Homo sapiens: one gene and its partners. The protein of the gene in region 1 interacts with the protein of each later gene in a pairwise test. Each region holds a gene or a part of one and is shown on either strand. Other genes may lie near its edges.

Region 1 (7,621 bases):
GACCGTGGCCCTGCGCCACCTTCCCCGCTCAAGGAGACCTCCTTTTCCATCGGGCTGCAAGTACTGTTTCCATTCCTCCTGGCAGGCTTTGGGACCGTGGCTGCTGGCATGGTGTTGGACATCGTGCAGGTAGGACCTGAGTAGGGCAGCTCTTGACTGTGAGCCCAGGGCCACCTTTGCCTGCTGGGAAACTTGGAACTTCCTCTCTACCTCCCTGTCAGAAGTGGCTGCTGCTTCCTAGAATACTGTTTTCCTTTGGATCATGTCCTCGGTTTCTTCTTGGTCTAGTTCCTTTCTACAGAAGCCTCAAGGAAACCGAGTAGCCCTGGGGAGGTGATCAGGGCAGTATTGCTAAATAGAAACAGAATTGGCTCCCGAGCTCAGGCTTGGGAGAGGAGAGATGGAACAGGGTCGTTGCTTGCCATCTCTCCCAAGCAGTCCTGCCGAGCCCAGCTCAGTAGGAGACATTTACAAGGGTCTCCTCTTTATGCCTTTTGTCCCCTGCATTTGGGGTTTCAAGGATACCCATAGTAGAAAGCTCAGTTTCAAGCCTCTCCTCCATCCCCCTACTGGGCAGGAATTTGTTCAGCTGCCAAGAGGGTCTCAAATTAAGTAGGAAGGCTCTTGAAGGCATTTTGTGTTGCTTATCTTCCTGTAACCTTGGCATAATCCCCTTGGGGGGTGGGGGTGGGCACTTGCTGTCTGATGCATGATTTGGAGATTTGGTGTAACAAGACCCAAATGTGCTAATTATCTGCTGTAAATGGGGACAAAATGTAACTAGGCCTGGGCAGAACTGTCTCTCCTCTTTGCTCCTCACCTGTCATTCTGAACCTGCCCTGGGCAAAGAGGGTTCTTTTTGAGGACATTGGGTAGAATGAAGGATGAGAGTCGGTGGGACATGGAATCTAAGAGCCAGAGATGTGCCATGTTAATTTATTGTGAGTCAGGACTTATGAAGAACCTCCAGGTCCAAGAGTTAAAGTTTTGTTTTTAGATAAAAGTTTTTTAGGCACAGTGTGGCACACCAAACTTTTTGAAGGTGCTGGGTTTACCTAAGTAATTCAGCAATGTGTATCAAATTCCTGCTGAATGCTGGCCTCTGTCCTAGGTACTCAGAGAAATATTAATACCAAGGCAGGAGGAGATCTGGCCTTTGCTTTTTGGGACCCCCAGTGTTCCCTGACTGTGATATCTCCCAGAAGGACACGAAGCTTAGCATCACCTTCCCTGTGCCAAGCCAACCCTACAGACCATAGTGATATAGAGTTCTGCTGGTAGGTCTCACCATGCCTGTGTCCTGGGAGACTGAAGGGGGTTGGTTCTTGATAGTGTGTGCACATGGAGAACTTTGACTTGAGCCCTTCAGGGGAACCCTGCACCTTTGGTTGCTCATGAGAGTGCTGTTTAAGTCATGCCAAAGTGCCTTGCACTGCCTCCCCTTTCCCCAAAACTGTTATCTTGAAGGTTGTTCCTACATGGAGGTTGGGAAGCCAGCCTGGAGCTTTGGGTTCCTCCTGCTAGGGGCTGCTCCTCCCCCTAGGGCCGGGACTGGGACAGTAGGAGGAGGAGAAAGAGACTAGGGTAACATTTTTCTTCACCTCTTCTATTCCTTTCCTGTGGCCTCAGTTCTCATTCTTGAAGTTGTTGCATTCTGGTTTGATACCTACAAAGGGTTGCAGAGCCAGGGTCCAGAGGTGAACTGAAGAGAGTTGTCTTATTTTCTGGATAATAGTAATGGTAGTGGGGAAGCATTTGGGGGGCTCTTCGGTAGGCCCATGAGGTAGGATCCATAATCATCTCCATTTTGTAGGTAGGGAACTTGTAGCTTAGAGGGATTAGGTAACTTGTCCCTGGTCATCTGACCCTAGAGCCCACACCACTAACCCCTGTGGCCTTCGCCATGGCCATGGTTCACCAGTTGGTTAAAAACTCGGAGAGGGGGCCGAGCTCAGTGGCTCATGCCTGTAATCCTAGCACTTTGGGAGGTCAAGACGGGCGGATCACCTGAGGTCAGGAGTTTGAGACCAGTCTGGCCAACACAGTGAAACCCCGTCTCTACTAAAAATACAAAAAATTAGCTGGGCATGGTGGCAGGCACCTGTAGTCCCAGCTACTTGGAAGCTGAGGCAAGAGAATCATTTGAGCCCGAGAAGTGGAGGCTGCAATGAGCCAAGATCGTGCCACTGCTCTCCAGCCTGGGTGACAGAGCGAGACTCCAACTCAAAAAAAAAAAAACTCTGGCTGGGCATGGTGGCTTATGCCTGTAATCCCAGCACTTTTGGAGGCTGAGGCAGGAGGATCGCTTGAAGCCAGGAGTTCAAGACCAGCCTGGGCAACAAAGTGAGACCTTGTCTCTACCAAAAAAAAAAAAAATAGTCAGGCATGGTGGCATTCTCGTATAATTCCAGCACTTTGAGAGGCTGAGATAGGAGTGATCACTTGAGCCCAGGAGTTTGAAGTCGCAATGAGCTATGATTGTACCACTGCACTCCAGCCTCAGCAACAGAGCCAAACGCTGTCTCAAAAAAAAAAAAAAAAAAAAAAAGACTCTACGAGGAGCCTATTTTCTTTGTCTTTCCTTGAAGAACTGGGTGGATTAGAATCTGGATTAATTAGCGTTATCTTCTGAAGTGAGCAAGAATAAAAGTTCTTAGATGGGGTAGGGAGGGACCCCCGCATACACACCACACCCCTACCCATCCCACACACTTAGATTCCAAAGTTTCTGATGTGTTGCCCCATCCCCACTCCAGGCCCATGAGCTGGAGACATTGAGAGGCCTGGGTAGGGAACCTTTGGAGCTGCTCTCAGTGTGGCACCTCAGCTCACCTCAGAGCTAGGGTCCACTTGGTGTGGATGACAATGACAGGTTTGTCCATGTCCTCCTCCCCCAGCCTTCCTGCTACAGCTGGGCTGGAGCAGGCCCTGCAGATGGCAACAGTGAGATGGCAGGAGGGGGTGAGTGCAGAGGGACCGAGACATGGGACCACAGGGAGATTGTTATTCCACATCCATGGGAGTAAAAGGGGGACTGACAATCTCAGATTCAGGAAGAGCGGGATGGTTTCTAAGGATTCACACCTATATTACCCCTTCATAAGCTAAGATGGACTTCAGTAAGAGAATCTGAAAGTGCCCCAAGACCATGGGGCCATCTGGAGAAGCTGGCTATGGAGTGTCCCCAGCATCTTGGAGCAACTGAGCAGGAGTCCATATTGGGCCTGGTTCAGATGTCTCCTTGGTCCAGGGCCCCCATCTTTCCTTGCTGCTGTAGAAAACTTGGTTTCTTTTTCACCAACGAGATGCAAAAAAAATAAAAATAAAAAGTTGAATTTTAATTTTAATTTAAAAGAAAAAGAAAACCCACTCTCTTCCTAGAAGGGTCATTTCTGCCTCCTCTTATCTGCCCTCCCGTAAATGTGCACAGCAGCATCTGCAGTGAAATAAGGGGCTGGTGCTGGCCCAAAGTAGGAAAAGGATAAATGGACCTCCATCTGCTCTAACTTCCCAACCATGGCTGAAAGTTCCTGCAGCATCTGGAAGGGAAGCAGGCTGGGGCCTGGTGTTGGCTTCTGAAGGGGGTTGGGATATGGGAGCCTCCTCACTGCAGGAGCCTTGTGCCCATCTGCCCAGTTTGGTCCTAGGCTGCTCCGGATGTCTCACTCCCTTTATCTGTCAGCCTTTGTGAGGGATGGGGTGACAGGAAGTAGTGTGCCCATCTGCACTTTAATTCCCAGCTAGGTTAAGACAGGTCCTTATTTTAACTCACTACTCACCTGCTAAGGATCTTGAACAAAGTAGATCCTGCTGTGTATACAGAAGTCTACAACGATGAAAGTGCATGGCAAGCGTGGCCTTGGGGAAGTAGAGTGGGAAGGAAGTATTCCTCCTGTGCCTGGCCTGCTCCTGTGGCCGCAGCATCCCTGGGCGGGACACTCTTATCTGCTTCACTTGACCACCCCTTCTGCTTTTCCCATCTCTGTCCCCTGCCTGCTGTCAGGGACCCATTTGCTTTGCTCCTGCTTTGTCCTGCACCGTATATCCAGGTGTTGCCCTAAAGCCCTTTCCTGGACACCTAGAGGATGCCTTTTGGAAAAGCCTCAGACAGGTGAAGCCTGGGGTTACTGTAATCTCATCTGACCCAGTCCTTACCCTAAAAGATCAGCTCCAGCCCAGCTTCTCCCACAGGAGCCCAGATTCTCCCCAGCCTGGAGCCTAAAGCTTGTATCTGGGAATTTAAGTCTTCTTAATGTCTTGATTCCTGGCTCTGACTTTCTTCCCTGCTGCTACCCTCCTGAGGTGGCTCAGGCCAGAACCCTTGAAGGCAGGTCAGGGTCAGTGTATGAGCTTGGATTGGAGTAGGTGAAGGATGGAAGAGGCGCATTGGAAGGGCAAGGAAGAGGTACTGGCAGGACCACTGAGGATCGAGACTTAAGGTGATTGCTGTGCCTCAGGATTCATTTTGGCTATGGGGGAGGCAGTCTATTCCCTCACCTGCAGAATACCAGGGATCCATGAGCCCCTCACACCAAGGTTAGAGAAGGAAAGAGATGAGGAGCTGCATTTCTGAGAAGTAGTTAAAATCTAGATGCTCCCCTCACCTCCAAGCAGGGCAGCACTTCCTGGAACATGCCCTTTTTCATCCCCATCAGAGCAGGAAGGCGTGGGTGGCTGCTTGGCAGACGGGTGTGACTTCAGGGGCAGATACTCCTAGCCTGGATGAACAGGATGGGGCTGAATTTGGCCAAAGGAGGAAGAAGAGCTACTCACTGTCTGCCCCTGCCCATCCTGTCTACTCCTAACCTTAAGGCCACCTTGATTCCTGGGCTGGCTCCACATCTCCAGCCTCCAGCATCTCTTTCCAGAGTCCTATGCATGCCCATGTGTCAGAGGCTTTCTGCCTGAGCTGCAGCTTTGAGAGGGTTTGTGGGTGAAGAAAGTATGTGTGTAGGAATTGGCTTCTCTGACCCAAGTGCCAACTCGGGGCTTTGCTGGCCTGGGGTCAGGTCGTTTGAGGTTCCAGGCTATATTCTGTAAGAGTCGGGAAGACTTTTGCATAGGGGCTGTTACTGTGACTGCTCCCTCTCCTTGCCTGTCTGTCTCTTATCCCACTGCTCCTAACACTCCGTACTTTGTAGATCCTCCTGTAGCTATAAGGAGAGGGTGCATTGTGCTGGGAGGTAGAGAGATTTGGGGTGCTTATGGTAGCAACCAGAGGAACTTAGCTGAGCTTTATACATTTTTCTTAAATAATAATAAAAGCAAGCAATATTCATTACAAACAGCTCAGAAAACATTGCTTGCATACATGTGGAGTCTTCTTGTGGGCTTTTTCTTTCTATGAGTACATGTACATTACATACACCTACCTGTAGAAGTCAGATTTTCATGGAGCTGGCAGCTTGGAAGCAGGGTGGAGCTGGTGTTTTGGGGTGAAGATGAGCTCTGAGGCTGTGCTCTGAGAGGAGCTTTGAAAGCCCGCAAGGGAGGGGAGAAGAGGGGGATTTTTCCCCTCTCTGGAGCTGGTTTGGGAGGAAGCAGGAGGCGAAGCAGAGCAAGGCCAGACTGCAGGGAGCTGGAGCCTCAGTGGTATGTACCAGCCGTGTCCAAGAGTAACAGTCCCCAAGTTGCTCCAGGGCAGATGGGGCTCACTGGGGCTGCCTTCTCTCTGGGGGGTCTTAGGGTGGGAAGGGATTCACTTCCCTTCAGTGTTTGGAGAGGGCTGGCTCATCCTTTGGCTGCCTGGAAGCCCAGTAACTGTTGTTGAGATGGGGGGCAGTCTCTTCCCCATTGTTAGTCCCTACGGTGGGGCTTCCCTAAGGAGAGTCCCAGGTCTTGGCCAGACCAGAAGCTCAGGCAAGCGTATGCTCCAGCCCCAGTGAAATGAGTCCTTCCCCAGGATCCTGTGAGGCCTCCCACCCCATTCACACAGGGAGAGCTCCGACAGGAAAAGAGAGGTTCTTGCCTTATAGGGCCACCCAGCGCCCAGCCTCTCCTGGTCTCAAGCCCTAGCCCCACCCCCTCTGATAGCCTTGCTTATCTTTTTGGTTATTGTGGTAAAAAATGTGTAACATAAAATTTACCATCTTAACCCTTTTTTAAGTGTGCTGTTCAATAGTACTACGTATATTCACCTCATTGTACAACAGATCTCCAGAACTCCTCATCTTCCCCAGCTGAAGCTCTGTACCTATTAAACACTCACTCTTTTCCCTGCTCCCCCAGCGCCTTGCTTCCACCATTCTTCTTTCCGCCTCTATGAATTTGACTACTTAGGCTGGGCTCGGTGCCTCATACCTGTAGTCCCCACACTTTGGGAGGTCGAGGCGAGAGGATCCTTTGAGCCCAGGAGTTCGAGACCAGCCTGGGCAATATAGTGAAACCCCTGTCTCTACAAAAAATACAAAAATTAGCCAGGTGTGGTGGTGCATGCCTCTAGTCCCAACTACCCGAGAGACTGAGATGGGAGGATGGCTGGAGCCCGAAGCCATGATTGCACCACTGCACTCCAGCCTGGGCCACAGAGTGAGACCGTGTCTCAAGAAAAAAAAAAAAAAAAAAAAGAATTTGACTACTTTGGATACCTCAGATAAGTGTTTTTTATCTGAGTGTTTTATCATACAGTGTTTTTTATGACTAGAGTAATGTCCTCAAGGTTCATCCATGTTGTGGCATATGACAGGATTTCCTTCCTTTTTAAGGCTGAGAAATATTCCATGGTATATATGTACCACACTTTGCATATTTTGTTTATCCATTCATTCCTTGATGGACATTTGGGTTGCTTCCACCTCTTGGTTATTACATATAGTGCTACTATGAACATGGGCATATTAATATATCTTCAAGACCTTGCTTTCTATTCTTTTGGATAAATATCCAGAAGTGGGATTGCTGGATCATGTGGTAGTTTTATTTTTAATTTTTTGAGGAACCACCGTACTGTTTTTCATAGCAGCTGCACCATTTTATAGTCCCACCAAGAGTGCACAAGGGTTCCAATCTCCACATGCTTTTTTCTTTTCTTGAGACGGAGTCTTGCTCTGTCACCCAGGCTGGAGTGCAGTGGCACTGTCTCGGCTCACTGCAACCTCCAACTCCCAAGTTCAAGCAATTCTTCTGCCTCAGCCTCCCCAGTAGCTGGGATTACAGGTGTGCGCCACCATTCCCGGCTAATTTTTGTATTTTTAGTAGAAACAGGGTTTCACTATGTTTGCCAGGCTGGTCTCCAACTCCTGACCTCAAGTGATCCACTTTCCTTGGCCTCCCAAAGTGCTGGGATTACAGGCATGAGCCACTATGCCCAGCCCAAACTCTACATCCTTGCTAACACTGATTATTTTCTGGGTTTTTAAATAGTAACCATCCTAATGAGTGTGAGGTGATCTCTTACTAATCTACAGTATTGCTCAACTTTATTTTATCTATTTTATTTTATTTTATTTTATTTTATTTTATTTTATTTTATTTTATTTTTGAGACAGAGTTTCACTCTTATTGCCCAGGCTGGAGTGCAGTGGTGCGATCTTGGCTCACTGCAACCTCCACCTCTTGGGTTCAAGCGATTCTCCTGCCTCAGCCTCCCGAGTAGCTTGGGATTACAAGCATGTGCCACCAC
Region 2 (7,763 bases), about 96 Mb from region 1:
CTCTGGCCCTATGTCAAGCTTCTGAAGCAGGGTTGTGCTGAGCAGTGGGGATTTGTGTCTGCCTCCCCAGGCTTCAGCACCGGGGATGACCCCACCCAGGTCCTGGACAGTATTTCCCAGAGAAGGGGACAGAGCCCAAAGCCATGGGGAAGGAGGTACGTGGCCTGGGTAAGCTGCGTCCTGGCTTGGAGGATGTGAAAGAAGTTCCAGGGGGAGATAACTCCCCTCCAATTCAGAGCAATTAAAGTGCCAAGTTTTCAGGCCCCAGGGAAGGGTTTTGGGGAACTCCCCTTTCCATAACTGTGCTTCCCTGTCTTCTTCCTTGCCTCATCCCCATAGTATAGATCTGGGGTTTGAACCCCAGTTGCTCAACTGTGTGGCTCTGCAAAAGTCACTTAACCTCTCTAAGCCCCAGTGTCCATATCTGTAAATGGAATCATTGAGACTAACAGAGAAGATTGTGTAAGACTACTCACACGAATACGCCTAGTGCTGTGCCTACTGCCAGAGCTCCCTTCCCGAGTCTGGAAAAGGACTGTTAGGGCAGATGGCCCCCAGGCCACAGGGCAAATGACTAATTCGCTTTGCCCATGCACTGGGTGTAGGGCAGGGCCTGTGGAGGGACAGGCTGATGATGGGAAGGTTGGATGGGAAGAACATGCAGAGGATATTACCCTGATTGCTAGTGAGGAAGGGCCACTCAACCTGTAGACCTATTTATTGTGTTATTAATAAATAGGAGACCCAGGAGCTCTCTGGGACTTTTCTGTGGGGTTCCAGCATTGAGCCCCTGCTGATGGACAGGAGGTGGGCAGCATGGGAAGGGCCCTGGTCCATAGCAGGCCTGGCCTAAACATGCACTGTGGGTGTTCCTGCCACTCTTTTGAGCCTGGTTCATCCGAGGCCCCCAGTTTCTAATCTGGTTGGGAAGGATTTATTTTTGGGTCCCTGTAACCTAGCAATGGGCTCACATGACCAGTGGCAGCTGCAGGCTGAATATACCATTGGATCTCAGCTCCTGGCAGGGGGTGTAGGCCAGACAGTGGGGGAATAAAGAGAATGGAAGGGCTCTCACCTCTGCTTTCCTCTGCCTCCCTCCTCAGCCCCTTGGCCTGGCTCCCAGATGCTGGGCAGGGTGAGGTGAGTGCTTGGAAAGCAGGCATGGCTGGTGCTGGTACAGGGGGGCCCCAGGAAGCCAGGAACTGAGCTGTGGTGTGGAGGTCCCAGCTGTAAGCCTGCTGTCTGGTTGGCAGGGGCGGGGGGGTTGGGTGCCCATGCGGATGGAGGTGGATGCCAAGAGGACACAATGCCAGCAGCTTGGCGGGGGAGGCCTGGCTAGGGAGTAGGCGGCTGACAGGCAGTCTATGTTGTGGGATCTCAGGGACATCCCTGGTCGATGCTGGAATCCCAACGTTCTGCTTCTTCTCTTTGTTCCCTGTTAAATTGTTAATATTCCTGGGAAAGAACACATTAAGTTGCTATCAGTGCAAATGGGTTTATCAACCTCTTTCCTGAGAGCAGATTCTGACACAAGGCAGAGAAGGAGGGTAGTGGGTGCCACTGAGCAGGCAAGGGGCTCTAGGGAGGGGGCAGTGGCAACATAAGAAGTCTTCAATGTTTATTGAAGAAGTGGATGGATGAATGAAAGATAAACTTGATTGGCTTCCAGGTCTCATCCTGGGGCAGAAAAGGGTGGATGGGCAGACACGACCCTGTCACGAGGTGCTGGTGCACAAGGGTTGGGTAAAACTGTACCAGGGAGCAAGTCTAGGATGCAAAGATCAGTCCTCAGCAGCAAGGGCCCTGCCATGATACCAAGGGAAGGGGTGCCACTGTTGGAAACAGGGCCTGGTCCCCGTCCTGTAACAGGATTCCCTTCCTGGGTGTGTGCACAGCATAGTGAGCCATGGATCTCTTATGTGGTTTGGGGGATCACACTCAGTTTCTCCATCTTGGTCTTCTTGCCCCCTCCATTGTGCTAAGCTTTACTAAAAGGAGGGACTGGCAGGTGGGGTTGGGGGTGTGCTGTCAGTAGCTACTCCACACCCTGACTGAGATCATTTAATAAGATACAGCATAAGAAGTGCCTCCCAAAGTGGGCCTTCAAGAACTAGTAGCATTATTATTATTATTATTTATTATTATTATTTTTTGAGACAGAGTCTCACTCTTATTGCCCAGGCTGGAGTGCAATGGTGCGATCTCAGATCACTGCAACCTCCACCTCCTGGGTTCAAGCGATTCTCCTGCCTCAGCCTCCTGAGTAGCTGGGATTACAGGCATGTGTCACCATGCCTAGCTAATTTTTGTATTTTTAGTAGAGACGGGGTTTCGCCATGTTGGCCAGGCTGGTCTTGAACTCCTGATCTCAAATCATCTGCCCGCCTCAGCCTCCCAAAGTGCTGGAATTACAGGCGTGAGCCACTGTGCCCAGCCAGCATGATTATTATTATTATTTATTATTTGCCCACAGGCTAGAATAAGCAGTTCCCCCGCCGACCTCCTGAGCCAAGATGGTTCCAACAGCTGGAACATGCTGCCTCTTTGGTACTGCCTTTCCCAATAGCTCTCTGGGAGGGGCTTCAGGACACGGACGCCTTGCCTGCTGGCCACCACATGAGCTGTGATTACCTGTGCTAGCTCCCTGAAGCTGGAGAGGCAGGCTATGTTTGTTTTGCAGGCTCCCTACCACTATTAGATAAGCTTGGAAGTGAAGAATTTTGCCCATTTTCACAGACAGCCAACTCACAGGCCAAGGTCTTACCACCAACCAATAGAATGGCGCCAAACTGGAACCAAGGTTTTCTGACTCCAGTCTAGCGCTCTTTCTAAAATCCTGTTCCAGTGGGCCCAGGTCTGCTCCAGTTCTTATTGAATCCCTCGGAAGGGGCCATGCCAGTCTGGGCTGGGGCCCTGCAGGAAGAATGTGGGTGCTGAGCAGGGACAGGCTTTACCTAATCCCAGACAATCTGCTTGATGCCAAATTAATCTTGCCAACACAACAGCACAGGGCTTCCTAAAAATCACTTTGCTGTCTACAGGTTTTCAATTTGGTATTTCCATTTGAATTTCTTGTACGCAGGTATGCCTAATTTTGAGGTCTGTTTTAGGCTTTCTGGAAGGCAGTGACTACTTCTATGAAGATAGCTTTTAGGGCTGTAGTCCACAGTCTTGTGTCAGGCCACTGGAGAGGCCACGGAACGAAGGGAGAAGGAGGAGGAAATACTTGGACTTCAAACAGATCTGGGTTCAAATATCAGCTCTTGCACTTATTAGCTGTGTGATTTGGGGAAAGTCACTTCTCCTCCAGCACCCGGTTCCTCACTTATAAAATAGGGCAAGTCATGGCTGCCTCATAGATTGGTGTGGGGATCAAAGAAACTGTATGTAAAGGGCCTGGCACTCATAACAGCTCAAAAAGTGGTGGCTGGTGACAGCGGCACTTGCTGCATCGGCTCTTGGTTTGTCAGTGGCCTCTTTGTTTTTGACCTGGGGCTTGGGGCAGCCAACTTGTCCCAGTGAGGTCCTTGGGTAACTCATTGTTCTTATGGCTCTTTGGGTTGGGTCTGGTAAACAATTCCAGAATTCCCTTTTTCCTTCTTAGAGGCAGAAGGAGTCCCTAGATAGGCAAGTCTCAGGGAAGCAGGCTCTGGAGTAGGGGATCATGCCTGAATTCCCTGTTTAGACTCATGGCTCTGCCATGTGGAGCTATGTGGCTTTGAGCAATCTCTTTATCTCTCTGGGTCTCAGAAACATGGATACCTTGGCCTGTAGGATGTCCTACAGCTTTGCAATGTTAGGATTCTATCCTTGGGTATCAGTCATGTACCCGGGTAAATGATCATTTTCTTCATAGCTAGAGGGAGGCCATGCCCCTTCATTGCGTCTCTGAAGGCCCATCATGCCACAGATGGGCGATGCTCAGTGGCTGATGCTACCTAGCTCTGTCCAGTCCCACAAATCCAGATCAGTGTGAGCATTCCTGAGTCCCTGGCCCCCACTCTGTCTCCTTCAGGAAGCAGTGTTGTGGTGGTTCCCATGGTGGCTCGGGGGGATGTTAGATCCTCCCGCCCCCTCCCTGCCAATCTCCATCAGCCCTCACAGCCCCAGTTCCAATAAACATACAATCTAAGCAAATAATAATAATGTGCTTTTGGGAGGCAAGGGCAGGGTTAAGACAAAGCCTTCAGCTGCCCTTCAAACCTGAGTGCTGCTCCTAAACCTGTCCCCCATACGCATTAGGCAGCTTCCAAAGGGGCCAAACCTTGGACCATCCCCTGGAGCCTCAGCCGCCTCCCTGGCCTAAGCCTTGGGGCCCTGGGTCTGCGCTGACCTGCCTGCATCAGCACCTTGGTTCTGATGTCACACAGAACCATGCATCTCTCCTATCTTCTCTTTGAACTGCTAAGAAATCAAGGCCAAAATGCAACTTGCCCAAGGTCACACGGCTAGTAAGTGCCATAGCCAGGCCTTAAACCTGGATTTTCTGACTCCATGTACTTTTTTTTTTACTTCATCAGGCTGGTCAAGAGGGTCTCCCCTACCTATCATTTCCTGGCCCCACGAAATTTTTGAGACGCAATCCAGCAGCCTGAGAGAAGTGAGAGGAGTTGAGCTCACTGCCAGGCACCTTGCCTGGGGCATTGGTGCCCACCTTTTTGCTCCAGAAGTGACTCTGAGGGGCTGGGTGGGAAGCAGGAGGCCATTAGGACCCAGAGGCTCTCGGAGCACTCTGCTTTGCCGGCTGCCTCTCACCGCTCACTGCAGTGCTTCAGGCTTCAGCAGCCTTGGAGAAGCATCAGCTGAGAGGAGCTATCACATGGGAGCCGGGACTGCTCAGCAAAGGTAGGAGTTGCCGACTAGGCCAGGAATGGGGGCCAGACCCAGAGCCTGGTGGTGAGTGCCAAGGTATCCCCACAGAAGGGTGGCTTTCCAAGGACCAGCCCTGCCTACATTCCGGTGAGCAGTTTGATCAGGAGATGGGCTCTCAGGTATCCCAAAGGCGGTATTGGGGTGTGGGCATCTCTGAAGCCCAGAGCTGGGGGGTTGATCATCTCCTGCCGGCAGGAGTACCCACATCCTGCAGACAAACAGCATTCTCCATCTGTCTTGCTCCATGTCATGGACATGGGTCTCCCACATTCTAGGAATGGGCCCTTCAGCATACAGGCTGATGGGCAACTGTGTCCTGGGCGTGGGCAACTCTGCTGAGGAGAGGTGTTGTAGCTCCCTGGAAATCTTCCCTAGCTTAGGAGGGGCACGCTCTTGTCTGAAGGAAGGCCAGGCTCAGGTCTTTGGGATGGAAGCTCTGGATCTGGAAAACAGGTGCATGTGAATCCCAATACCTCTGTGGCCTTGGGCTGGGCACTTATGCACATCTTGCATCCTGTAACTTGACCATGCCCCTGCTAGAGGCCCAGACCTCAGGCCCTAGTGGCAAAGCCTTCTAGGTACTGAAGGTCCTGGAGGTAAGAGGGGTGCTGTTGGAAGTAAGTAGTGGGGGAAGGAAAGCATCTGTTGGGGGAGTAGGCATAATGATATGACCTGGGAGAGGAGTGAGGCTCCCTGGGTTTCACCTATGAAACTGTTACACCACAGCCCTCCCCTCCATAACCCCAGTCCATTAGTGAGGGAGTGCCCATTAGCCAGATACACTGATCTGTCTGTTAAGAGGTAAATTGGAATCCTGGCATTTAGGAGTCACTGTGGAGACACTGGCAAGCTTGAGGGAGCTATGAAAAAGAGCAATGTCCAATGCCTTCTTGCTCAGGGCTCCATCATGGCTTCGTGGCATCCCTCCAGCTCCACGTGGAAACCAGGTCTGCTTCCCTCCGTCTGGGACTCTTGATGTCCATCCAGACATGGTGGGCCTCTCCTCCTTCAGCCACCAGGGAGGGACTCTGAACCACATCCTCTGGGCCTCACTCACAGACAGAAGGGATAGGTAAATCAGAGCATGGAGAGTAAGAAGGAAGGATGCTTCTCCTAGCATTTCTTTCAGGCATTTTTCCTGGTAGACTCTAATGAGAAGCTGATGTCTCACTTTTGTGCCCGCTCTTCAACTTCTCTGCAGACTCTAAGTCTCTGTGGGCATCTTAACTGTGAAATGAGCTTTCTGTGTCCCTAGAGAGAGGCACGTCTCTAGGCAGTTGCCCAAAGTTAGGGCTTCCTCAAGTCCAGGAACCCCGGCTACCCTTTCCACAAGAGAGTCCCTTGGCTGGCACACAGCTGGCTGACTGAGTGTTCTTGGAGTTTGTCCTAGGGGGCAGGGATTCAACTACCAATTTGAGTTTGATTCAATTCACAAAATTGTATTCAGCACCTATTGCATGCATAGCATGTTAGAAGTTGGATTGGTGTAAGGTTTATGGAAACACCAAAAACCAAAGGTGACTGTAAGGCTATAACTGTGGAGGAGAGTGGGGCCCATCTTGCCATGTGATCCTCTTTATTGCAGCCATAGAAATGATGGGTTTTTAAACTGAGCAACCTCAGTGTCTCCTCCCTACTTCTTGTTCTGTGACTGTAGTAAGTCTAGAACCAATGCGGCTCTTGGTCAGGGATCCTCCAAGGGTCAGCTCCAGAGATCAGAGATTTGGGGATCTGGGGAGCAGGAGGTTGGCAGCAGCTCCTTTCCCACAAGAGGGGCACAGTGGCCTTGAAGAGTTCATGAGTGGGTGGAGAAGGGCAGCTTGAAGCAACTTCCGGCTTTGGGAGCAGTGGAGGCTGGATGAGCTGGCCTCCCAGTTTCCTTCCAGACGGGACATTTTGTTTTCACTGCTCCTACTCAACATTCCCAAAGTGGCAGCTCTTTGTGCTGGGAGTAGTGATGTCAAAAGAGCCTAAAGCACAGCTCCCCTTTTCAGATGATAACCCTAGGGCAGCAAGAGACAGTTTTAGAGACAGCTGAAATTCAACAACTATTTACTGGATGCCTATTATAGTCCAGCCGGCACGGAGGGCACCTTCACATATGGCATGGCACAGTGGGCAAGAGTACTGGACCTGGGGCCAGACTGCCCAGGTAGGTGCCCAGCCCTTGCCGCTTACTAGCTGTGCGACCTTGGGTAAGTTACTTAACCTTTCTAGACCTCAGCTTCATCTCTTGCAAAATGGAGATAAAAATATTATCTACTTCATAGGGTTGTGTGAGGAATAAAATGAGTTAATATAGGTAGAGTGCTGAGAACAGGGTCTGGCATGTGGAAAACGCCGTATCAATGCTACTGCTTGTCATTAGTATTATTATTAACAAATCACGCAGGATCCAGAAACACAGTTGTGAAGCAAGTGTTCTTCCTTTCATTTTACAGATGGATTTATGAGGAAACTGAAATTCAGAAGATTCACAGAGTTAGTAATGCCCAGAACTGGGACTAGAAACTAAATTTTGTGCTCCTTCTACTCCCCAGCAGCTCTTGCCATTCTGAGGAGACAAGAAATCAGGAAATTTACATAAGGAACCCTAAAACTGAGGCACTATCCCAGAGATCAGCAGGACCCTGGGAAGGAGAAACAGGATTTAGAATCCCCGGCTAACAGTTCTGGAAAGGGTAGAAGGGTATGGAGAACAAGAATGGCAGAAAGGAGATGGAAAAGGAAGAGGTGAAGGCCATTCCGAAAGCGGAGTGTTGAGTGGGTCAGGCTCCTGCACCTCTCACGTCTCCTGCTTCTTAGCAGTCACCAAGGCAGACCCTGCAGCTACCTCCGGCCAGAAAGGGGATGAGCTTCTGATCCTTCAGCTGCCTGGCCTGGCGCTCTGT
Region 3 (7,676 bases), on another chromosome or scaffold:
GATGGAGTCTTGCTCTGTCTCCTGTGCTGGAGTGCAATGGCACGATCTCAGCTCACTGCAACCTCCACCTCCCGGGTTCAAGCAATTATCTGCCTCAGCCTCCCGAGTAGCTGGGATTACAGGCGACTGCCACCATGCTCAGCAATTTTTTTTGTATTTTTTAGTAGAGATGAGGCTTCACCATCTTGGCCGGGCTGGTCTTGAACTCCTGACCTTATGATCCACCTGCCTTGGCCTCCGAAAGTGCTGGGATTACAGGTGTGAGCCACTGCGCCCAGCCTCTGGGATCAGAGTTTTTAAAGATAATTTGGCCGGGTGTGGTGGCTCATGCCTGTAATCCCAGCACTTTGGGAGGCCGAGGCGGGCAGATCACGAGGTCAGGAGATCGAGACCATCCTGGCCAACATAGTGAAACCCCATCTCTACTAAAAATACAAAAATTAGCCGGGCATGGTGTCGCATGCCTGTAATCCCAGCTACTTGGGAGGCAGAGGCAGGAGAATCCCTTGAACCGGGGAGTTGGAGGTTGCAGTGACCCGAGATTGTGCCACAGCACTCTAGCCTGGTGACAGAGCAAGACTCCGTCTCAAAAAGAAAAAAAGAGAGAAAAAAAAAGATAATTTGGCTGGTAGGGGCTAGGCAAGTAGGGAGTGCTGATTGGTCGGGTTGGAGATGGAATCATAGGGGGTCGAAGTGAGTTTTTCTTGCTGTCTTCTGTTCCTGAGTGGGATGGCAGAACTGTCTGAGCTACATTACTGTTGGAGGTGGTGTCAGCAGATCCATCAAGTGCAAGGTCTGCAAAATATCTCAAGCACTGATCTTAGGTTTTACAATAGTGATGTTATTCTCAGGAGCAATCTGGGGAGGTTCAGACTCACAGCTGAAGGCTGCATGGTCCCTAAACCATAGTTTCTAATCTTGTAGCTAATTTATTAGTCCAGAAAGGCAGACTGGTCCCCAGGCAAGAAGGGATTTTTTTTTTTTTTTTTTTTTGGAAAAGGGCTATAATCAATTTTGTTTCAGAGTTAAACTATAAATTCCTTCCCAAGGTTAGTTCAGCCTACACCCAGGAATGAACAAGGACCACTTAAAGGTCAGAAGCAAGATGGAGTAGGTTAGGTCTAATCTCTCCCACTGTCATAATTTCCTCAGTTATAATTTTTGCAAAGGTGGTTTCAAGATCAAGATGAGAAAAATGGGTCTTGGAGAGGTGAAATAACTGGTTTAAAAGCAAAGAGCTGCATTCTCTATACCTCCTCTCTTGTAGAATAAATGAATGATGTCTCTCTTGTAGGGAATTAGACAGATAGATGGGCAGCCACCACATTGGTTGTAATTAAGTTTCATTCTTTCTTCACCAGCCCAGCATTGTACTTGGCTGCAGCAGACCCAGAGCAGGCAGGACTGCCTTGTGGGGTGTGGACTGTTCTCCTCTGAGGCTGCAGAGAGCAGACAGCAAAGATCTGTCTGCTGCCCTTGAGGGGTGGCCATAGAGGCTTGGGGACAGGCAATTTCTAAGGGGATACAAAATGGATCCTTCCCCATCCTCCCACTTGTGTGCAGATATTTCCCGAAGTAAAGCTGAGCTAAACCCTAAAGGATAGTCAGGATTTAGATGGGAGAGGAAGGTGAAAGAAACAGATGACCAGGCGCAGTGGTGTGTACCTGTAGGCCCAGTACTTTGGGAGGCGGAAGTGGCAGGATCAATTGAAGCCAGGAGTTCAACACCAGCTTGGGCAACAAAGTAACACCCTGTTTCTAAATAAACAAACAAAATAAATGGATGCAGGGAAACAGTAAAATAGTTACTAAATGTGTATGATGCATGTGGGCTGGGCACAGTGGCTCACGCCTGTAATCCCAGCACTTTGGGAGGCCGAGGCGAGCAGATCATTTGAAATCAGGAGTTCAAGACCAGCCTGGCCAAGATGGTGAAACCCAGTCTCTATTAAAATTACAAAAAAAAAAAAAAAAAAATTAACTGGGTGTGGTGGTGAGTGCCTGTAATCCCAGCTACTTGGGAGGCTAAAGCAGCAGAATCTCTTGGACCTGGAAGGCGGAGATTGCACTGAGCTGAGATCATGCCACTGTACTCCACCCTGGGTGACAGAGTGAGACTTTGTCTGGAAAAAAAAAAAACCCCAAACCCACAAAAAATAAATTAATAAATGTGTATCATGTGCTTTATACTATGTTAGTGACAGAAACACAACAGTGAGCAAAACAGACCTCAGCCCTACCCTCATGGAGCTTTCAGTCTAGCGGAGGATACAGGCATAAAGAACCACCTATACTAGTATTAATTACAATCTGCAATGGGTATTGTGAAGGAAAAGTACAGGGCAATAGGAGAGCTTATGTTGGGTATGAGGTGATGATGTAACCAAGAGAGTGAAGGGAAGCTACTCCTGAAGAAAGGCATCTGAACTTGCATTTAAAGGGTAAGGAGAGGTTAACCAGAGGATGATAGTGGGGCATGGGTTAAGTGCATACCAGGTAGAAGGAACACATGTGTAAAGGCCCTGAGACAGGAGGGCACAAGGAAGGTTTGAGCAACTGAAAAGAACTTGCATGGCTGGAACAGTGGGTGGGGGTTGGGGGCTAGAAGGGGTCAGAAGGGGAGAAACGTAGGGGCAGATCCTTTAGGACCTTGAAGACAAACTAAGAATTTGGGCCTTTATGATTTTTTTTTTTTTTTTTTGAGACAGAGTTTCACTCTTTTTGCCCAGGCTGGAGTGCAATGTTGCAATCTTAGCTCACTGCAACCTCCGCCTCCCAGGTTCAAACGATTCTCCTGCCTCAGCCTCCCAAGTAGCTGGGATTACAGGTGTGCACCACCACACCCAGCTAATTTTGTATTTTTAGTAGAGATGAGGTTTCACCATATTGGCCAGGCTGGTCTCGAACTCTTGACCTCAGGTGATCTGCCTGCCTTGGCTTCCCAAAGTGCTGCGACTACAGGCATGAGCCACCTTGCCTGGCCTGATTTTTTTTTTTTTTTTTTTAACTGAGACAGGGTCTCACTCTGTCACTCAGCTGGAGTGTAGTGGTGCAAAGATGGCTCACTGCAGCTTTGACCTCCTGAGCTCAAACAGTCCTCCTGCCTCAGCCTCCCAAGTAGCTGGGAGTACAGGCACAGGCCACCATGCCTAGCTAATTACGTGTGTGTGTGAGATATGTATATGTATATATATATATATATATATATATATATATATTTTTTTTTTTTTTTTTTTTTTTTTGTAGAGCCAGGGTCCTGGTATGTTGCCTAGGCTGGTCTCGAACTCCTGGCTTCAAGTGATCCTCCTACCTCTGCCTCCCAAAGTACTGGGATTACAGGCATAAGCCACGCACCCAGCCCTTTATGGAAATTAATTGAAAAATTTTAACAAAGTTCTGTGATAATTTTGCCCCCTTTAAACATATCTTTGATTACAACATGAAGAACAATAGACCAATTAACAGCACTGTATTAGTTCAGGGTAAAAATGACAGTGGCTGGGATTCGGTGACAGCAGAGATGAATAATACCAGACAGATCCAAATAAATAAGGTGGATTTGGCCAGACAGTGGTTCATGAGTATAATCCTAGCATTTTAGGAAGCCAAGGCGGGAGGATCACTTCAGCCCAGGTGTTTGAGACGAGCCTGGGCAATATAGTGAGATCCCCATCTCTACAAAAAATCCATAAATTAGCTGGGTATGGTGGTGACCAGCTGTAGTCCCAGCTACTCAGGAGGCTGAGGTGGGAGGATTGCTTGAGCCCAGGAGCTCGAGGCTGCAGTGAGCCATGATTGCACCACTGCACTCCAGCCTGGGCGACAGTGAGACCCTGTGGGGGGCGGGGGCGGGGGAAAGCGGAGCTGTGGAGAGTGAAGCAGCCACCTCCCCCATGATTGAGGCTGTGTTGCTGAATTCCGTGAGTCACTTCATAAATGTTTGATGTCCAGGTTCAAGTCCCAACTCAGGTCCCAAAGCTGATGGGCCCAGGAACCCTCGTCCCTAAAACGATGAAACGACATCAGAGGGCGAGCAGCCCTAGAAGAAGCAGGCTCAGCTCGGGTGGAGGACTGCTGGATGGTCCTGGCACTTCTCTTTCCCCGAGCACGTTCTGCAGAAGAAGCGCTTTCCTAGTTCTCCCAAGGCCTCTGGCCTCACCTGTCACCCCTGTCCTTTGCCCAGGGATCAGTTTGGACTTCTTCCCAAACTTGGTCTACAGAGAAGTGAAGGGGCTGTTTCCTGTCCCACTTTTGAGAGTTTGCTTTAGAAACATAAAATTGGAAGGTGTCAGATTGATAGGCAGTTGGGAAGGACTCCGGCCACGCCTCTGGCTCCGTAGACGCTCCGCGCAGCCAAGACCCCTGAATCCCCAGCAGAGCGAAGATGTGGACGGAAGCCGAATGCCCACCCACCGCACTATTGTGGGCTGGGCGGGGGGGGGGGGGGGGGGGGCGGAGCGACCCCGGTGCCGTCATAGGGCCACGCCCTCGGGGGAGGGCATCGCGCCTGCGCCAGAACCGCTGCCTCGCTCCCGGAAGTGGAGGGTCTACACGAAGCGCCGCTGGGTCTGGGTGCCCGGAGGCAGCAGCGTTCGCGGAGTTCGCCCGCTGGCCCCCGATCACCATGTCGGCTTTCGACACCAACCCCTTCGCGGACCCAGTGGATGTAAACCCCTTCCAGGTAGAGCCCCTCTCCCGCCATCCAGCTCTCAGATTTCCCTAGGGCCCACGGCCGCCGCCCGGGCCTCTCGCTAGAGCCGGGAGACGTGGCGTAGGAGGGACGGGTCATCTGCCCAATGGGAGAGCGGGCTTTGAGGTCTGGCCTATCGTAACGCGTGAGGGGCGCGACTAGCAGCAGGTGGAACTGCAGAGGAGGCGGGGCGCTGAAGTGTTGGAGACAGTGGGGTCTTCTAGCACCCGGAGGCTGGGCTGTGCTAGGGAAGGGGACTGGAGCAGGTACGGTCGGACCCTTCCGGAAGTCTCCTAGCGTCAGGGAGAAGCGAAATGTGGCTATCGCATTCCCTCATTCTTGGATAGACACCTGTCTTGAGTCACTTTAGAAGAGGGGGTGACAGCAACATATGAGGAGGTGGTGAAGCCTCTGGTGGAGGGGAAAAATGTGGGAAAAGCCCAGGACACCTGCCACCGCTCCACCACCAGCCAAACTAGTGTATAAAGTACAGGAGAGCCCCTGAGATTTGTCAGGGAAAGAAAGATGGGAGAGGGCGGGAAGGTAGCCCAAGTTGAAAAATGGCCTTGATAAGAATTCCACATTTTGGCCATGGGTCTAGTTTGGAGTGGGTTTTGACCAGATAGGAGAGCCCGGGTTAGGGAGAGAGGAGAGGTGCGGGGGACTGTGAAAAATTCTGGACCCACAGGGAACGTTTGTCTGATGGAACTGTGTGTGGTGGCAACATAGTTGAGATGCACTGACGTGTGAGCTGGCCTGACTTTTTTTTTTTTTTTTGAGACGGAGTCTCGCTTTGTCGCCCAGGCTGGAGTGCATTGGCACGATTTCCGCTCACTGCAACCTCTGCCTCCCGAGTTCAAGCAATTCTCCTGCTTCAGCCTCCTGAGTAGCTGGGACTACAGGCGTATGCCACCACACCCAGCTAATTTTCATACTTTTAGTAGAGACGGGGTTTCACCGTGTTGGCCAGGCTGGTCTCAAACTCCTGACCTCAGGTGATCCATCCGCCTCGGCCTTCCAAAGTGCTGGGATTACAGGTGTGAGCCACCACGCCTGGCCTGACCTTTTGAACAGCAATCAAGGAAGAAACAATCTTCCTGCTTTCTTTCTTTTCCTTTTTTTTTGTTTTGTTTTGTTTTGTTTTTTGAGACAATTCTTGCTCTGTCGCCCAGGCTGGAGTGCAGTAGCGCGATCTCGGCTCACTGCAGCCTCAGCCTCCTGGGTTCAAGTGATTCTCGTGCTTCAGCCTCCCGAGAAACTGGGATTACAGGTGTGCACCACCACACCCGGCTAATTTTTGTATTTTTAGTAGAGACGGGGTTTCACCTTATTGGCCAGACTGGTCTCAAACTCCTGGCCTGAAGTGATCCACCCACCTTAGCCTCCCAAAGTGCTGGGATTACAGGGGTGAGCCACCACACCTGGCCTCTTTTTTTTGAGACAGAGTTTTGCTCTTGTTGCCCAGGCTGGAGTGCAGTGGCGCGATCTCGGCTCACTGCAACCTCAGCCTCCTGGGTTCAAGCAATTCTCCTTCCTCAGCCTCCTGAGTAGCTAGGATTACAGGCATGCACCACCACGACCGGCTAATTTTGTATTTTTAGTAGAGACGGGGTTTCTCCACGTTGGTCAGGCTGGTCTCGAACTCCCGACCTCAGGTGATCCACCTGCCTCGGCCTCCCAAAGTGCTGGGATTACAGGCATGAACCACTGCGCCCAGCCCTCTTTCTTCCTTTTTTAAGGCAGGGTCTCACTCTGTCGCCCAGGCTGTAGCACAGTGGAGGTCATGGCAGCCTTGACCTCCAGGATTCAAATGATTATTTGAATCCCACCTCAGTCTCCTGAGTAGCTGGGACTACAAGAATGTGCCACTGGGCCTGACTCCTTTTAAAAAAAATTTTTGTAGAGAAGGGGTCTCGCTGTGATGCCCAAGCTGGTCTCGAAATCCTGGTCTCAAGCAATCCTCTGGCCCCAGCCTCTCAAAGTGCTATGATTACAGGCATGAGCCACAGGACAGTCTTCCTACTTAAAGCCCACACCTTTCTGCCTTTCAGCTGAGAGCACAGGGATGATCTTTTTCCACCATGAGGGGCTGAACTGTTACCTCCAGAGCTCCTATGCCTCTTGTTTCACGTCTGCTCAAAACCCGTTCTAGGGAAGCTTGTTTGTGCTGACTGGTGAATTATGAGCCCTGATATTCTGCTCTGTCAGGATGTCACCAGGCACATTAACTCACCCTGCTTGTCCTTTATTTTGGTCATTGGCAGCTTTTAAGTTTCCTGCAGGTGTCAGAGAAGTCCTTGAAGGAGTCCTTCCTGTCATTCACAGCATGAGTTTTCCCACTTTGAATCGCTTCAAGGGTCAGAGCAAAATCAAAGGAGACTTGAACTAAATAATTATACGCTGTCAGGAGAGTGAAAATGTTTTGCTTCTTTCTTGGTCTCAAGGTGTCTTAGCCAACAGGAGCCCTCAGGGCAAATTCTGATAGCTTGTTCCTTAGAACATCAGGGAATTCTGAACATTCCTCTCGTAGCTTAATGTTTCTTGACAGAGCGTTTGCAAGGACCTTGTCTCTTATGTAAGGCAAACAGTCATCTCTATTGAGTAAAGAAAGAAGATTTGCATTTTTTTTTTCTGCCAATGTCTTCTGGTAACAGACTTTAATTACAAAACTGCTGTATAATACTGGGGTTTGGGTTTTAGTAGGATCTTGTAGCCTTATGGTGTATGTTGTATGTGATGATTTTCCATTTTTTATGTGTGTTTTTTTGTCCTCTCAGAATCAGAAATAAAAAGTCTGCTGCTGTCTGACAGAGAGGAAGTCAGTTGTCTAAAAATGCAGAGAGCTTTGCTCCAGTGTTAGCAGAGGGCAAGATAGTTCTACCCTGTATTAATAGCTGCTTGAAAGTCTTAAACCTCATCTCTGGCTCCAAAAATGACTGTGCAAACTGTGGTAGAAGTAACTTCTGCATTCTAGCGAGACAGTCTG
Region 4 (7,621 bases), on another chromosome or scaffold:
ATTGATAGTTCATCTATGGGGCCCATGCTGCTACAAGCAAAAGGTTTATTGGAGTTTGCAGCCATCTCCTTCTGGGATTTGACAGTGGCAATAGGAGATGGTAACAGGAGATAGACATAGGTAATAGGTAATAGGAGTGGTAATAGGCGATCTCTGTAAGGGACCAGAGATGCTCCAAGTGACACATGGTGAACTGTCTGTCCACAATACATAGACTGAGCCCCTTTGGAAAATCTAGGCTAAAGCTGATGTAAATGCTTCTTGATTTTCTGACTGGGAGGATTTTGGATGAGATCTTTTAAGTGGGGTGGGGATGTGAGGGGATGATTGAATTTCCTAAAGTGTTAGCCCTCCATAAAATAGAAAACAATCTTAAGAATGAATTAGGTTAAGGTTCAGACTATTTCTCCCTCCATCTCATCTACATGCATTATCCCATGCTAAACTTGGTTCTCTTTTTTTTTTTTTTTTTTTTTTTTTTTGAGACAGAGTCTCACTCTGTCACCTAGGCTGGAGTGCAGTGGCGCCATCTCTGCTCACTGCAACCCCTGCCTCCCAGGTTCAAGCAATTCTCATGCCTCAGCCTCCCAAATAGCTGGGATCACAAGCACACGCCACCACACCCAGCTTAATTTTTGTATTTTTAGTAGAGATGGAGTTTCACCATGTTGGCCAGGCTGGTCTTGAACTCCTGGCCTCAAGTGATCCACCCACCTTGGCCTCCCAAAGTACTGGGATTACAGGCATGAGCCACTGTGCCCGGCTTGGTTCACTTTTCATGGCCCAAAATACTATCTGCATTATTAATAATAAGGTCACAGAATACTCCACTAAGGAGAACCTTAGAAAACAATGAGTCCTATCTCCTGCCCATGGTGAGATTCCCCTCCATGGCACTTCTGGCTTGGACACTTCCAGTGACAAGGTACTCCCTGGGCAGGGAACAAAGAATAATTGTTCCTTATTTTCAGCTCAGGTCTTCTGCATGTTGTCTGTCCACTGTTGGCTCTAGCTCTGTTCTCTGGGACCCTCTCCTAGATAATAATTATTAACATGAAAAAATCAAGTAGTAGTGACCCATACCATCTGGTCTCTCTCCTCAGGACTCACTACACTTGGCCTTATTCAAACATAGTCTATGGGGTGGTCAGTCTACTGCCAAGTAGAGTAGTTATATTACCCAAGCCCCATCTCTCACCTCTGATTCAAGCAGCACCCTGCATTTTTATGGAAGCTTTTATAAAGCATCCTTGGCACTCATGTCAACAATTATATTAAAACTGCAGTCAATTAGAACCCTTCATTCTTTTTAACTGTTCATCATTACTGGACCTTCACCCCATCCTATATATATGCCATCAATATTTCTCATTCCAAGTTCGGGATATTTATATTTATCTTTATTGAATTTCAGTTGTTAGTTTTGGCCTCTGACAAGATTGGCCTGGCAAGATTTTATTTTTTTTTTTAACCAAAATTGGGCTGGGCACAGTGGCTCATGTCTGTAATCCCAGCACTTTGGGAGGCCATGGCGGGAGGATTGCTTGAGTCCAGGAGTTTGAGACTAGCCTGGGCAACATAGTAAGATCCTATCTCTACAAAAACAAAAGTTAGCCCAGTGTGGTGGTGCGTACCTGTAGTCCCAGCTACTCAGGAGGTTGAAGTGAGAGGATCGCTTGAGCCCAGGAGTTCAAAGCTGCAGTGAGCCAAGATCCCACCATTGCACTCCAGCCTGGGAGACAGAGGGAGACCCTATCCCCTGCCACCAAAACAAAAAACAAGAACAAAAACAAAAAAAAAACAATAAAAACAAAATTGTGCACATATTAGAGATAGTACAGTTATTTCTGTAAAGCCTACTGCCTCTACTAATTTTAATAATAATTTAGGTAGCATATATGTGATTCCTACAGAGTTTGAAATAATTTCAGTTTTGACATTAGTGAAGAAAATCCATTGTAAAATGTTTTCATACCAAGAGTTTAAAGAATTAAGACTTCCTTTGATTGTGTTTTTGTCTAACTTTGAAGTCTAATTTATTTCAAATCATAGTATAAAATAGTTCTGCTGGAAAAATAATTGCCAATAAATTATTTCACTTTACTAGGCCGGGCATGGTGACTCACGCCTGTAATCCCAGCACTTAAGGAGGGTGAGGCAGGAGGATCACTTGAGGCCAGGAGTTTGAGGCTAGCCTGGCCAACATGGTGAAACGTTGTCTCTACTAAAAATACAAAAATTAGTTAGGCGTGGTGGCGGACACTTTTAATCCCAGCTACTTGGGAGGCTGAGGCAGGAGAATCACTTGAACCCAGGAGGAGGAGGTTGCAGTGAGCCGAGATCGTGCCACTGCATTCCAGCCTGGGTGACAAAAGCAAAACTCCAGGGACTGGGCACAGTGGATCATGCCTGTAATCCCAGCACTTGGGGAGGCCAAGGTGGGTGGATCACCTGAGATCAGGAGTTTGAGACCAGCCTGGCCAACATGGTGAAACCTCGTCTCTACTAAAAATACAAAAATTAGCCGGGTGTGGTGGCACGCGCCTGTAATCCCAGCTACTTGGGAGGCTGAGGCCAGAGAATTGCTTGAACCTGGGAGGCAGAGGTTGTGGTGAGCCGAGATCGCACCACTGCACTCCAGCCTGGGCGACAGAGTGAGACTTCCTCTCAAAAAAAAAAAAAAATTTAGCCGGGGATGGTGGCACATGCCTGTAATCCCAGCTACCCAAGAGGCTGAGGCATGAGAATCATTTGGACCCGGGAGGCAGAGGTTGCAGTGAGCTGAGATGGTGCCACTGCACTCCAGCTTGGGTGACAGAGCACAACTCTGTCTCAAAAAGAAAAAAAAAATTATTTCACTTTACTTACCAGTACTATTTGGATAACGTTAAGTAAAACTCCATCTCTTTATATAATGTACCATTTCCATTCAACTAACTGCTGTTCCTCCCCTGCCTCTGTCCAATGAGCAAGGTTTAATGTGTTACCAGAGGGAACAATTAAAGAGTTCCTGGAGGCCTTGGGGCTCTGAAACAAGCATTAATTGATGCAGTCTGCACATATTGGGTTTGTAAGCTCTCAGTGAGTTGAGAGGAAAAAAAGGAAGAAAAGTTCTACAAGGTGAAGTGGCTACAACAGAGAGAATTCTGAAGGCCTTTGGTCCTCAGTTGTCTATGAGCTTGCCAGGAGGTGGCCAGGGTACTGTAGAGATGAAATGAGCTTTTGATGAATTTGGAAGAGAGGAGAAAAAGTAACATGCTGGCAGTGTAGGGAAGGCGGTATTTAATAGTAAAACATGTGTAGCAGGACTTAAGAGCTTGAGGAATCATAAATGTCTCACCTTCCTTTCTGTCCCTGCTCTCCATATTGTCATTGCATTCGCAGTTTCTAGGGTACCATGGGAAAAGGCAGAGCCTGTCACCATAGAAGAGAGAGAGGAAGGGAGGCAGGATGCATATGGCAACCTGGAGTTTTTAATACAAAACTCAATGATACCTTTCATTTTTTAGGAGAGGGAGGTAGCCCTCCCTATTTGCAGGTGAACATCTTCCAACCAAATGAATCATTCCAAGTGGGAATATTTATTCATTTATTTTTTATTTTTTTGAGACAGAGTCTCACTCTGTCACCCAGGCTGGAGTGCAATGGCACAATCTCGGTTCACTGCAACCTCTGCCTCCCGGGTTCAAGCAATTCTCCTGCCTCTGCCTCCTGAATAGCTGGGATTACAGGCGCGTGCCACCACACCTAGCTAATTTTTGTATTTTTAGTAAAGGTGGGCTTTCACCACATTGGCCAGGCTGGTCTCAAACTCCTGACTTCAAGTGACCTACCTTCCTCAGCCTCCTAAAGTGCTGGTATTACAGGTGTGAGCTACCTCACCCAGCCAGAATGTTCATTTATTTAAGTGGATGTGTGTAACTGTTGCTAGTGGAATAAATTCAGGACGGTCAATATGCCTTCATATCTGTGTCTTCAAAAAGCACTGGCAGGCCAGGTGCGGTGGCTCACACCTATAATCCCAGCACTTTGGGAGACCAACGTGGGAGAATCGCTTAAGCCCAGGTCTGTTTGAGACAGGCCTGGGCAACATGGAAAGACTCTGTCTCTACAAATAAAAAGAGCAGGGCGTGATGGTATGTGCCTGTGGTCCCAGCTACTTGGAAGGCTGAGGTGGGAGGATTGCTTGAACCCAGGAGGTTGAGACTGCAGTGAGCTGTGATCATGCTGCTGCACTCATCCTGGACCCTGGGCAATAGAGCAAGACCCTCCTCTTAATTAAAAAAAAATTCCTGACAGATAGTAGAACTAATGTCAGCCATGATGAGATTTGAACCTAAAACAGGTTGGGGCTGAATGACCAGCCTCTATGGCACTTAAGAGGCACCTTCTCCACTAAGTGGAAATAGACTTTTATCCCCCTCTACTTTATTACTCCTGTAAAACCTCCAGTGCTCAGCCCTGCCTGTTCATCTCCTTAAAAACACAGGAAAGGCTACTATCCACAGATGTTGATAAATTTTTCCCTTTTTTAGGTAACAAAATAAACTGGTTTCAAAAGCAGATTAAATGGCTATACTTGGCACTCTGTGAAGGGCATTGTCGAATCAATGCACAGGGTAAGGATGTCAGAGGCTAGAGAAAGGGTAACGAGACTGAAGTTGAGGAGCAAAGATCTCCAACCTCTGACAAGTTGTCATGGCAAAGTCCTAAGAAGGATCATGGCAATTAGGGTGGCTCTCCATGTCCCATGACGAAACCCAAACACTGAATGTTGTGCAATCATAAAAACCAATTTTCTGAACTACAAAAATGATCGAACCATAAAAATCAGGAACACCTCTGGTTCCAGTCAGACTAAAGATCAGAGGATCCCTGGTCGTCCAGCCTTCCAACATCCCTGACCTTCTGAAGTCTAAGATCTCTAGCTGGGATGTGCTTCTTCTCCTTTCTTCTTACTGTAACACCTCTTCCTACAGAGCTCTGGCCTCTCTACATGGATTGGGAACCAGATGTTGTCCCTGAGCAGCCTCCCACCGTGGGCTGTCACCCTGCTGGCATGCATCCTCGTGTCCATTGTCACTGAGTTTGTGAGCAACCCAGCAACCATCACCATCTTCCTGCCCATCCTGTGCAGCCTGGTGAGTAATGCGGAGCTCCCAGACATCCAGACAGGCTGTCCCAGGGGCCTGGAGTGGCAGGCCTGGCTCAGGGCAGCTTCCGTAGCTGTAGGCTCTCCTCTGGTTACTGCCCACAGCCTTCACTAATTGGTGTTCAATTCCTATTTTGAAAAATGAAGTTTTTCAAATAGCAACTAGTAAATAAAAAGATACACTAATAAATCATAGCAAGAGTTCTAGAAACCTTTGTCCAAAAGAGTAGGATTAGTTTAGGGGCAGCCCTGAGTGGAAACCAAAGAACATACAAAATAATATTCAAACCCTATCATTTCAATTCCCCGCAATCATTATCAACCTTTCTCTCCTGAGATAAAACCTGAGTAGGGCCAAAGAGGTAGCCACAGAAAATGGAGGTAAAACACACACAGCTGAAAAGACTGAGCTCACAACTCAGACAATCATCACAGCCTCCACTGAGTTTCACTGTCCTCCGGGAAGTTCTGAGGATTGGGAGCAAGGTCAGCTTTGCTCCACAACCTCAGACCAATTTGTTGTGAATAGAATAAGGGAGGGGAGCAACGGCCAGATCTTAGCCTGGCCAAGCAGCCGGAAAGGTGATGCATCTGACCCAATGCTTCATCTGTCCCATTCTGGGAGGCAGAATCCAGGAAATGAAGGCCCCTCCTGACCCCAGCAACATAGTCTCCTACTGCTCTTTCTAACCCCAGAGCCATACTCTCTGCTCATTGCTCAGATGACCCCAACTTCTCCCTTCCGTCATCTTGCTCCTGCGAGCAACAGAGTGCAGTTAAAACTTGGCAACATTGAGAGCAGGACCATGGATTCAAATCCCATATAAAACAATTATCTTCCCTAGGAAAAAAAAAAAAAAAAAACCACCTTAGTTCTGTACCCTAAGACTGAGGAATCCCCACTTCAATCAAAGCAACCTATTCATGAGATTTGAGTTTAAGGAAAGGAAGTCTCAGCTAAAGAATAAAGTTTAGGAACCAATTCCTTAGAATAACACCAAAAAAATCAAACATCCCTTCTAGGGAGTAACTCAAAGCCATATTTCCATGTGGAGCAAGTAAGCAGCATCAGCCTATTCAGGTTGTCAAGGGACTGCATGCCCCAGAGGGCAGAGACCTAACTACCCCTCCACATAGTGTCCTGCTAAGGTTAGCCAGCACCAAGTCATCATTAAAGCATGCTCCTGACATTAAGCACAGGAAATGCAAGCCTAATCTCGTGAATGTTTCTGTGAATTCTCTCTTCTAGTCTGAAACGCTGCACATTAACCCCCTCTACACCCTGATCCCAGTCACCATGTGCATCTCCTTTGCAGTGATGCTGCCTGTGGGCAATCCCCCTAATGCCATCGTCTTCAGCTATGGGCACTGCCAGATCAAAGATATGGTGAGTTGGGGTGCCCTCTCCCTGCCAGGCCCAGCTGCCATGAGGACAGGGATGACAGCTCTGCAGCCTTCTTTCAAAGCTTATTTTGTAGCAGTGTCCCTGGCCTGTCAATGCTAAACCCAGTGTGGTAGCAAGAATAGCACCTATAAAAAGGTTTTTGTTGGTCTATAAGCACCAAGGATAGCAAGAATGTGCTCTCCCCAACCCTTCCCTGGAAGGAAGTGGGTACCTAGGTAGAGAAAGCTGGAACAGACAGGCTGTGGCCCAGTTCCAGAAGGCATGAGCCTGTGCAAACAAGTTTTGCCTTCGTTTCTTCATTAGGCCAGTGGAGACATTCATTGAGAAAGCTACTGGTTTATTCACAGAAGATGAGAATGAGGAAGTGTATGAACCTAGGGTGAAAGGTATTTTGAGAAAACAGGATTCTTCTGCTCAACTCACCCTCCACCCCGGCCCAGGCAAGAAACCCCTGAAGCAACAATGGAAAATGAAGCGTCCACCATTCATTTTCATTTTCAGCTGGGCTCACAAAAGATGGCTTTGAGATATTTTGCTGCTGACTTTAGCACTGGGCCTATCTACCTTCTACTCCTCTACCTATACACCTGCTGCTATACTTAGTATCCAGGGCTGAGCGGGGGGGGAGAGGATGGAAAACACTGATACGAATTACTGATGGTCTGACAATTTTTTTTCATGGGAGCCAAATTTGTTCTCGGGCAGCCCTGTAAAGTAACAAATAGAGGAAAGGAAGAAAAAGTTTCAGGCTGGTGGCAGATATTCAGGTCCTTTTTTATCCTTTTTTTTTTTTTTTTTTTTTTTTTTTTGAGACAGAATCTCACTCTCACCCAGGCTGGAGTTCAGTGGTGCGATCTCGGCTCACTGCAACCTCTGCCTCCCAGGTTCAAGTGATTCTCATGCCTCAACCTCCAGAGTACCTTGGACTACAGGTGTGCGCCTCCATGCCCAGCTAATTTTTGTATTTTTAGTAGAGATGGGGTTTCACCATGTTGGTCAGGCTGGTCTTGAACTACTGGCTTCAGATGATCTGCCTGCCTTGGCCTCCCAAAGTGCTGGCATTA

Evidence for each region.
Region 2: the proteins of SLC41A1 (region 1) and GPR61 interact in binary tests that used the Homo sapiens proteins (3 or more experiments, as listed by UniProt).
Region 3: the proteins of SLC41A1 (region 1) and SCAMP2 interact in binary tests that used the Homo sapiens proteins (3 or more experiments, as listed by UniProt).
Region 4: the proteins of SLC41A1 (region 1) and SLC13A4 interact in binary tests that used the Homo sapiens proteins (3 or more experiments, as listed by UniProt).

What each region holds. Positions count from the first base shown.
Region 1 is NC_000001.11:205,802,578-205,810,198, reverse strand, and holds part of SLC41A1 (solute carrier family 41 member 1), read left to right. Parts: coding exon 1-129; intron 130-7,621. UniProt on the Homo sapiens protein: Na(+)/Mg(2+) ion exchanger that acts as a predominant Mg(2+) efflux system at the plasma membrane.
Region 2 is NC_000001.11:109,535,109-109,542,871, forward strand, and holds the start of GPR61 (G-protein coupled receptor 61), read left to right. Parts: upstream 1-4,763; 5' UTR 4,764-4,845; exon of another isoform or gene 4,846-4,959; intron 4,960-7,313; 5' UTR 7,314-7,763. UniProt on the Homo sapiens protein: Orphan G-protein coupled receptor. Constitutively activates the G(s)-alpha/cAMP signaling pathway. Shows a reciprocal regulatory interaction with the melatonin receptor MTNR1B most likely through receptor heteromerization.
Region 3 is NC_000015.10:74,870,204-74,877,879, reverse strand, and holds the start of SCAMP2 (secretory carrier-associated membrane protein 2), read left to right. Parts: upstream 1-4,514; 5' UTR 4,515-4,624; coding exon 4,625-4,681; intron 4,682-7,676. UniProt on the Homo sapiens protein: Functions in post-Golgi recycling pathways. Acts as a recycling carrier to the cell surface.
Region 4 is NC_000007.14:135,683,042-135,690,662, reverse strand, and holds part of SLC13A4 (solute carrier family 13 member 4), read left to right. Parts: intron 1-1,634; exon of another isoform or gene 1,635-1,759; intron 1,760-3,340; exon of another isoform or gene 3,341-3,652; intron 3,653-4,979; coding exon 4,980-5,141; intron 5,142-6,401; coding exon 6,402-6,539; intron 6,540-7,621. UniProt on the Homo sapiens protein: Sodium:sulfate symporter that mediates sulfate reabsorption in the high endothelial venules (HEV).